2 separate regions of the Homo sapiens genome follow, and region 2 is reported to be linked to region 1. Evidence: microRNA targets listed by miRTarBase, many of them from high-throughput screens and not tested one by one. Region 1 holds a microRNA gene; the other region holds the end of a gene's coding sequence.
The links. Region 1 holds the annotated microRNA hsa-miR-339-3p (UGAGCGCCUCGACGACAGAGCCG, at 1,340-1,362, shown strand). A microRNA usually pairs through its seed, bases 2 to 8, with sites in the 3' UTR of a target mRNA and lowers its output. Matches are read on the target gene's strand: a 7mer-m8 pairs with bases 2 to 8, a 7mer-A1 pairs with bases 2 to 7 and ends in A, and an 8mer does both.

Region 1 (4,383 bases):
CCTGGTCCCACGTCTCTGGCAAGGGCTCCTCTTGAGCTGAGGCTTCTGAGCTCCTGCAGGCGGGAGTAGGGAGGCAGGTCCCACTGTCAGCCAAGCTGCAGGGTTTTTAGGAAGAAAGTGGGGGCTGTGCACCGTGGGCTCACACCTATAATCCCAGCACTTTGAGGCTGGCCGGAAGGATCGCTGTGGCCCAGGAGTTTGAAAACTCATGCCTATAATCCCAGCACTTTGGGAGGCCGGCAAGGAGGATCACTTTAGCTCAGGAGTGTGAGAGCAGCCTTGGTCCTATCTCTATAAAAAATTTAAAAACTGGCCAGGCATGGTGGCACATGCCTATAGTCCTGGTTGCTTGGGAGGCTGAGGTGGGAGGATTGCTTGAGCCCAGGAGGTCGAGGCTGCAGTAAACTGTGATGGTGCCGCTGCAGTCCAGCCTGGGCCACAGAGCAAGACCGTGTATCAAAAGGAAAGGGCTGCTGTGGAAGGGCCTCCAGTCCCCTGGCCTGGGCTGCAGGGGCCGCTGCTCCAGCCCTGCCTTCTACATGTGCCGAGATGTGAGCAGTCACCCCTGGAGATCCTCACCCCTTCTCTGTAGAACGAGGAGTTGGGCTGCCAGGGATTGGGGTCTGGGCGCGTTGCTGGTGTGTGTGTGTGTGTGTGTGTGTGTGTGTGTGTGTGTGTGTGTGTGTGTGTGTTTCCTGGGAGGAGGCCCCCACAGTCTTCGTCATGTTCTCCAGGGCCCAGTGGGAAGGAGTTGGAAGTTGGATGGAGAGAAATGTGGAGTAGGGCAGGAACCTCCTTCCTAGGAAGGAGCCTGCGGGGGACCCTGCAAGGGGTCCCAGGTTCCCAGGAGGCCTCGGGTGTGCTGTCAGAGGGGCGCTGGGGCTGGGAGTCTGTCCATGTCTTCAGCCTGGGTCTCGTGAGTTCAGGGAGTTTGAACCTGGGTGGAGAATGAGCCCCTGTGCGTCTTCCCTAACCTCCAGCTGACACGAGCTTCCGCAGACCCCGCGGTGGCGGGTGTGGGCGCTCCCCGTGCCATCTGTTGGGGACACCTCACACATCACTTGCGCTCAGCCCGTGTCGCGGCTGCAGGAGCCACCAGACCTTGTAAATACTCGGATGCCCACATCTGCTCGTCTGTGTCTCCCTGTGGCTGTGCATCAGACCTCACGCGTTTAAAACGTCCTTCTGAGAAGGGGCCACAGGCAGGTGCCACCCATTGCCACGGCACCATGGCAGGAAGCGTCCCATGCTCTGCAGGGGTGGCAGGAAGCGTCCTGTGCTCCGCAGGGGCGGGGCGGCCGCTCTCCCTGTCCTCCAGGAGCTCACGTGTGCCTGCCTGTGAGCGCCTCGACGACAGAGCCGGCGCCTGCCCCAGTGTCTGCGCCGGGACCATGGAGTGGCCAGCTCGCCGCGGAGACGTCGCCGCGCTTTGTAGCAGCCCCTGGACTCGTATGCGTGGGTCTTCTGATGCAGTGTGTTTTATTCGGTATCAACATGGAAGGGGGAGAGCATGGGATGTTCCACTGGTGTCCTAGGGAGGAAGTAACTGGGGAGGGAGGACGGTTGGGGGGGATTCACCTTTAAAGAATTTGAGAGCTTGTTTATTTTGCAGAATAAGAGTAAATTAATCCCCTGTGTGTTTCTGATCATTAAGAAGACCACATCGATGCTGTTGGTTGTGGGACTGTCATTTCAGAGTCCGGATCCGAATGTGGTCCTGGCTACTCTGCGAGGGTTGCCGTGGGAGGAGGTGGTGGAGGGCACGTGGGCGTCCCGTGTTCCCTCACGACGGCCGTCACCTGCGATTGCGTTAAAATAAAAGGCTTAATTTAAAAAACTCTTGTTTCTCAGAAAAAGCAGTTTACTACTGTGAGTTAACGCCGTGGGATTCTAATAATTGAGGTGACAAATCTGATTAAGGTTTTCTTTAAATTGGAACAGAATCCGTACGGGTGCCCCATGAGAGGGCTGTGGGACGTGGGACCAGGCTCCTGACCTTGGAACCCCTGGGTGGGGTCTGAGGCGATGCAGGAGAAAGAGGAGCTCGTGGTCCAGGAGGCGCCCGTGGGTGGGGACATGCCTCCCCGCAGGCCTGCGTCTGTCCTCGTGGGACGGGGCCAGGCTTCTGGTCCTTCCCTCCTGAGCTGCCGTCACCACCGTGGCTCACGAACAGTGCAGCGGGGCTCCTGGTGGTCTGCGAGCAGACTCCGGTGGACTCAGGGTTGGTTGCCCTGTCCAGGGGGCCTCGAGTGCTCCAGGACATGGCCTGTCCGATGTGGCCCAGGCGCCACGCCTGTGGGCCGTCATCGCTGTCACCTGGGTGTGCCGAGGGACTTGGGCTTTCCTGCCACCCCCGCGGAGGATCGAACCTTGTGACCCAGGCCGAGGGAGCTGCCCTGGGTGCCCCTCAGGCTCCTGCTCCCCAGGACTCAGTTTATACCCCAAAACCCAGCCTCGCCCCGCGGAAGGGCGCGCATCCCAGTGTGTTTCCCTGTGCCAGGCACAGTTCTCGCTGGGCGGGTATTTTTGCCGCATGCTTTCTTTTAGTGCGCTGTTTGTGTATGGTTGTTGGTGAGCTGTGGTTTCTGTCTGGTGACAAGTAGGGAGGGGTTAGGGGGGTGGTGTCCTGCCTCCAGCCGACCTGCCGGGGTTCCCAGAGGGCACTGCGGTGGCAGCAAAGCCAGTCACACTGGGGCTGGCAGATTGTCCCTCTCCCATCCAACAGCATGGGGAAATGATTGATGACTGACAGCTGCTGAAGCCCTACTCCTGTGCGGTGGATGGACAGTGCTCCCTGGGGTCCCAGCTCCAACTACTGGCATCTTGTCAAAGCAGCAGCCCAGGTGGCCACCACTGCCGATCAGACTTAATGGATGAAGACAGGAAGGCTGGGCAGAGCCCTTCAGCTTCCGACTCTGGTTCAGTCACTGAAATCCGCAATATCATCTCTGTCAAGGTCAGGTCCTACTGCCACGATGAAAAGGCTTCTGGGGAAGAAGAAAGAAACCTGCCCCATGGGTGCCAGCCTGGAGGTCCACACTAGAGGTCCCTGCTGGGAGATCCTCAGCCTGGAGGTTCCCAACCTGGGGGTCCGTGCTGGGAGGTCCCCAGTCTGGAGGTCCCCAACCTGGAGGTTCTTAACCTGGTGATCCCCAACCAGAAGGTCCCTACTGGAATGTCTCCAGCCTGGAGGTTCCCAACCTGGAGTTCCCTGCTGCGAGGTCCCCAGCCTGGAGGTGCCTGCCTGAAGGTCCCCAGCCTGGAGGCCCTGCTGGGAGGTCCCCAACCTGGAGGTACCTGCCCGAAGGTCCCCAGCCTGGAGGTACCTGCCTGAAGGTCCCCAGCCTGGAGGCCCTGCTGGGAGGTCCCATCTGAAGGCTCCACCTGGTGGTGTCTTTCGTAACCCCAGTCCCCAGCTCTGCTGTATCAGGACGTTACAAACGGCCTGATTGCCCCCAAGAAAGTCGAGGGGTCCTGACCCCTGCACTCCTCCGTTTCACACAGCCTGGGGAGCCCAGAGGAGCAGGACATCCAAGGCCCAGGCCGTCTGCAGGGGTGGTCAGCAGACGGCAGTGATGGGCTGGTGTCTGCCCCTGAGATCAGAGGTGAACAGGAATGGGAGCCTCTGTTTCCTGCAGGTCCTCCCTGCTCGGGAGGTGGGTTCGGTAAGGGCTGGGTTTACTGTCATTCATTTCCTTACATCATCTTGGTCTTAGCTGTGTGAGACTAGCTGTCCCTGCAGTCTGGGAGGGGTTGGCCTGTTCCCCAACCCGCTACAGCCCCCTTGTGTGTGGTATCCGCCAGACATATCTCGATAGTGGGGGCTCCAGGTGGGGGCGCCGAGGGGCCCTTGGGTGGAGACGCAAGATGGGGCAGCGGCTGGCGAGAAGCGAACCTAGGGGGCTCCTCTCTGGGGCCCAGGAAGAGTTCTTGGAGAGGCTGTCCTGGCTCTGACAGGAGAGCGGGCCTCCCCTTTGGTGGGCGTGCTGGGCGGGGCCCCAGGCTGCAGGAGGACTGTGATGGGAGCAAGGGGTGCCCCCTCTCTCAGGGAGCCCCAGGAGGGCAGAGGCTGCAGCGCGTGTTCACAGGACGGGAGCATGAGGGAATGCACTCCGCGGCGTGGGAAGAAACAGTCGTGGGGACCAGGGCATCGCACGCGGGGCCTGCCGCATCCATGCACTGCTGGGCCTGGTGCCCGTGTTCCCGCAGAGCAGCAGACACCACCACTCCGCCGGCCCTTGGATCTCTCCTCAGTGGGAAGAGAGGCTGGGGACGGGCCGGCCACCTGCCGCCTCGCTGGACTTCTGCCCTGGGATTCCTGAGACGAGAGCCGAGCGTCCTAAGCTGCCCTCGTCCAGGTGCCCCGTGGCCTCCCTCGGGAAA
Region 2 (4,383 bases), not on the chromosome of region 1:
GGATTAAAATCTAGGTAGTCTGACTTGAGCACCAATTTGTTACCTGTCTTTTCTCCAGAAAGATAGTTTCAGTTGTTAATTTATGAAAGTTGATTCCTTAAGTTAGTTTATCAAGTGTGGTCAGGATTTCTTATTCTAAATAATTTGCAACTACCAGATATTCAAAGCATAAAATATTAACAGTTGTATATCTAACTGAATTTCAGTCAGGTTCCTTAAATTCTTGATCTTTAGTATCTTTTAAGTGGTGAGTCATCGTTCATGCTATTTCTCACATTTACTGTTAGTGAAAATTTTTAAAGCATGACACTACAGTTTTTAGTATTCTTACCCTTTTTGTTTTTTATTCTTAATTTACAGATGTGTCATGAAGCTTTGTCACATATCTGGGTACCAGGTTTGACCTCAAGAGATGGCTGCTGTACACTTTTTGCAACTGGTTTGATGTCACATTTCAGCTCCAACTTTGCATCCTGAGAACACTTAAACGTTTCTGCAGGTCCATTTTATACAACTTGAAAGACCGTAAAACTTTCTGGTTGCCACAAGCATATCTTTCTTTTCTGCTCATCCAATAAACAGCTGTGCCCTACTGTGATAGATTTTCCAAACAAAAATACCTGGAGCAGCAGTTTAGCAAAATATGCCTTCAGTGGCATTCAACAAATGGAGTTTCCCCAAGCACAGTTCTGTAAGAAGTGCGTGTGAGAGTGTGTGTATATGTGTGTATGTGTATTTTAAGTTATTATTTGTATTGTGCAAAAATTTTTTTTTGATCTTGGGGATTCTGGCTGTGAATTTGGTGCACGACAATTATGGTAAAAAAACATTTGCTTGGTCTAAAGAAGATCATTAATGTTTTGTGACCATACAAGTTGTAACAGTGGATTGTTTTTATGTGTAGGTATTGTTAAATACAGGGACTGTTTCCAGGCACAGAATATGAATCGTAAGTTAGGATGGACATTAGATGTGATTATGATGATAAAGCGAAGGTCTGCGGTCCTATATCTACAGACACGTGGTGAGAAATTAGAACAAACTGGAGACGGGCCATTGACACATGGACTCTGCCTGGGCATGTTAGGTTAATTCTTTGACTCCAAGCCTTAAAATACTCACATGGAGTCAGCGCTCACCTCATTCACACAATTATCATAGAGCTCCCTGGACACTGAACCTCTAAAGGGAAAAGGTCTACCCTGGAGCCAGGAGCATCAGGGTTGGCTTGGGAGCATGAGAGGTGAGCCCAGGGCTAGGCCTGGGCCAGGCCCCGGCAGCACTGCTACTTGGGAGGAGCCACTTCACCTTTGTATTAGTTATTAAAAAATATAATTTGGGCTGGGCGCAGTGGCTCACGCCTGTAATCCCAGCACTTTGGGAGTCCGAGGCATGCGGATCACTTGAGGTCAGGAGTTCGAGACCACCCTGGCCAATATGGTGAAACCCCATCTCTACTAAAAATACAACAAAGTTAGCCGGGCGTGGTGGCAGGCGTCTGTAATCCCAGCTGCTTGGGAGGCTGAGGCAGGAGAATCACTTGAACCCTGGAGGTGGCGGTTGCAGTGAGCACAGATCATGCCACTGCACTCCAGCCTGGGCAACAAAACGAGACTTCGTCTCAAAAAAAAAAAAAAAACATAGAATTTGGATCCTTTGGTCGGGTTCTCCCAAATTCTTTTGAGGTGTCCATGGTCAACTGCTTCAGCTTTGTTTTGGCAACCCCCTGCCCGAAGTCGCATATAGGCTGTTCTTCACCTTGTTTCCAAGGCTGAGGAACAGAAAGTAGCCTCTGTTTTGAGGAGGTGGAAGTTAAGTATACATTTATTTTTTACTGTGACTTGTTCAGGACCACATTTTACAAAATGCCTTGTTTCCTTCATTGTTTCTGGAAAGGAAAGTTCTATTAATATTGTTTTACTTTGAATATAGAATAGTTTTTTTAATTAGGGCTTATTTTGAAAAATTCTGAGTTTAATTCAAATGTATGCCAATACCTTCCAAAGTAAGGTAATATTCAGAGACAGTTGTTGTGATCAGATGGCTTAGAGAAATTTCTGGAATATTCACATTCGAAGATTCCTTATTAATGAATGTCTTTGACTTAAATCTAACCAAAAACTGCAACATTATTCTTTGTACATTTTCATTATATAGTGTTAACAAGCTTAGTTGCAAACAAATAAAATACTTAAGCTATTTGTTTACCTTGCCTTCTTAATACTGTGATAATGTTTATTAATTCAAATAACTTATGTGAGAGCTGCTATAACCATTTCCCCAGTTCAACATTGCATTGAAAATTTATGGACCTTTAAAAAAAAAAGCCCAACAGTGATTTTTTTTTAATAATTAAAGAATGATTTTACTTTGTATTTGAAGGGTGATTTGTTTCATCTCTTCTTTTTTCAGGGTAGTCACTTGTTCCTAAAAGAGGAACATAGCAGTGGCTGTAATGGGAATGGCTCTGCAGTGGGCTAGTCACACCAAAATAAAGAAAGGGCAGCTGTGGGAGCCATCAGAAGCTGTGGAGGCTGGACTGGTAATGGGGAATGCTGCCCCACTGAAGTCTTGTTTTAGAGATCAGTGTGATGTGCTCACTTAACTATAAAGTGTCAGTCCCCATTCCAACTAAGTGGCTCCTGGCTGGGAAGTAGAGTAGGTTTCTCTAAGGAAAATGACACCTGCTCACCACCCGCCCCACTATACCACATTGTTGTTAGGCTATCATATAATGATAAGGTAGCCCTCTGAGGCCACAAGGTAAGACCAAACCACCAGGGCTGGGTTTTGGGATCCCCTCTAAAGAGACCACACATGTTTGTTTAGTGTTTATAATCTAGAGAAAAGACAACTGGGACAGAAAATGGGGACCTGGAAGGTAGGTCTCAGACTGGTGAATGAATTTTTCCCTAGACCTTGATTTCCAGAGCTTGAATTTAAGGGCACTCCCAGGTAGAGAAATGTCTTTGTCCCATGGAAATTATAGACCAAGGAAGACGTCAACCTATAAAAACGTATAAGGGTTTCTCAGGAACAGTGTTTTCAGAATATCTGGTGAGCTAGCTAATTTTTTTCTCTATTTTAATTCCAGTTATTATCCTTGATAAAGTCTTAAGCTTAAGAGGAAAAAGTAAGTGTCCATCCTTGGGTCAGAAGTTAAAAGGAAGATCAGAGCTCCTAAGGCAGTGATAATTGTTAAGATCTTCCAAAGGGGAAGACCATCAGAGAGTACAAGAATTTAAGCCAGCGGGTGGCGCACGCCTGTAATCCCAGCACTTTGGAAGGCTGAGGGGCAGATCACCCGAGGTCTGGAGTTTGAGACCAGCTTGACCAACATGGTGAAACCCCATCTCTACTAAAATACAAAAATTAGCTGGGCGTAGTGGCGGGCGCCTGTAATCTCAGCTACTTGGAAGGCTGAGGCGGGAGAATCAACCTGAAACCATGAGGCGGAGGTTGCAGTGAGCCGAGATTGTGCCATTGCACTCCAGCCTGGCAACAGAGTTAAGACTATGTCTCAAAAAAAAAAAAGGATTTAAGCCAATCTTTCAAACCTGGTGAATCTTCTTACCATGGAGGATTGGTTGGCTAGCATAGTAAAGGACTGACTGCGTGGTTGTAGCTCTGTAGTTTGGTTTCTTCTCTGCCACTAATTTGGTTATGTCAGCCTTGCCAGATTACTAAACTTGCTGAAACATGGCTTGCTTACCTGTAAAATCGAGGTTAATAGTAGGTTCATATTGGGTTTTGTTTTCAAATGCAAGAAATCATCCATGTAAAGAAAGTATTTAGCACAGCTTAGGGCATAGACTATGCACTTTACAATGTTAGAGCAGGTTTCTTTATAGTAGTCTTCGTCAGACCTGGAGACCCAAACTTTTGTGTCCCAAGTAGTGATTCTCAGCTTTCCAATATGAATAGCCCCTTGTTAACATAAAGATCTCACTTTTTCTTATTAGAATTTGTACCTTTGTTTGATTAAGGAAATAAAAGATGAATGACAAATGAATTTGGTAATGCCTTTCTGTGAATCTGTATTCAGTATGTTTTGTATGTTAATATAGCAGGGTCATACAAAAACTGGCCTATTTTTGTAAAGTTTTGTAGAAACACTGCTACACCTATTCATTTGTCTGTGGCAGTTTTCACACTAACTCCAGACTTGAGTAGAGTAGGTGCTACAAAGACCAAAGCATGGGCCACAGAGCTGAAAATACTTACTCTGTGTCCTTTTACAGAAAAGTGTGCTGGCCTTTGCACTAAAGCATGAAGAAACATTTGGGAAAAAGCACACAGGCTGGGCACGGTGGCCCATGCCTGTAATCCCAGCACTTTGGGAGGCCGAGGCGGGCAGATCACCTGAGAATGGGAGTTCAAGAC

Region 2: miRTarBase lists AKIRIN1 as a target of hsa-miR-339-3p. Seed matches in the 3' UTR shown: 7mer-A1 at 1,132-1,138.

The regions. Positions count from the first base shown.
Region 1 is chr7:1,019,934-1,024,316 of GRCh38, reverse strand. MIR339 (microRNA 339) reads left to right here and starts at 1,291; the gene lies at 1,291-1,384. All of the region lies in intron 2 of CHLSN (cholesin), which reads left to right. RefSeq lists an enhancer at 623-1,180.
Region 2 is chr1:39,003,685-39,008,067 of GRCh38, forward strand. AKIRIN1 (akirin 1) reads left to right here. Exons shown (of 5, transcript NM_024595.3): 5 at 361-2,375. The coding sequence ends at 371. Among named protein-coding and RNA genes, the nearest start is that of AKIRIN1, 15 kb to the left of the region's middle.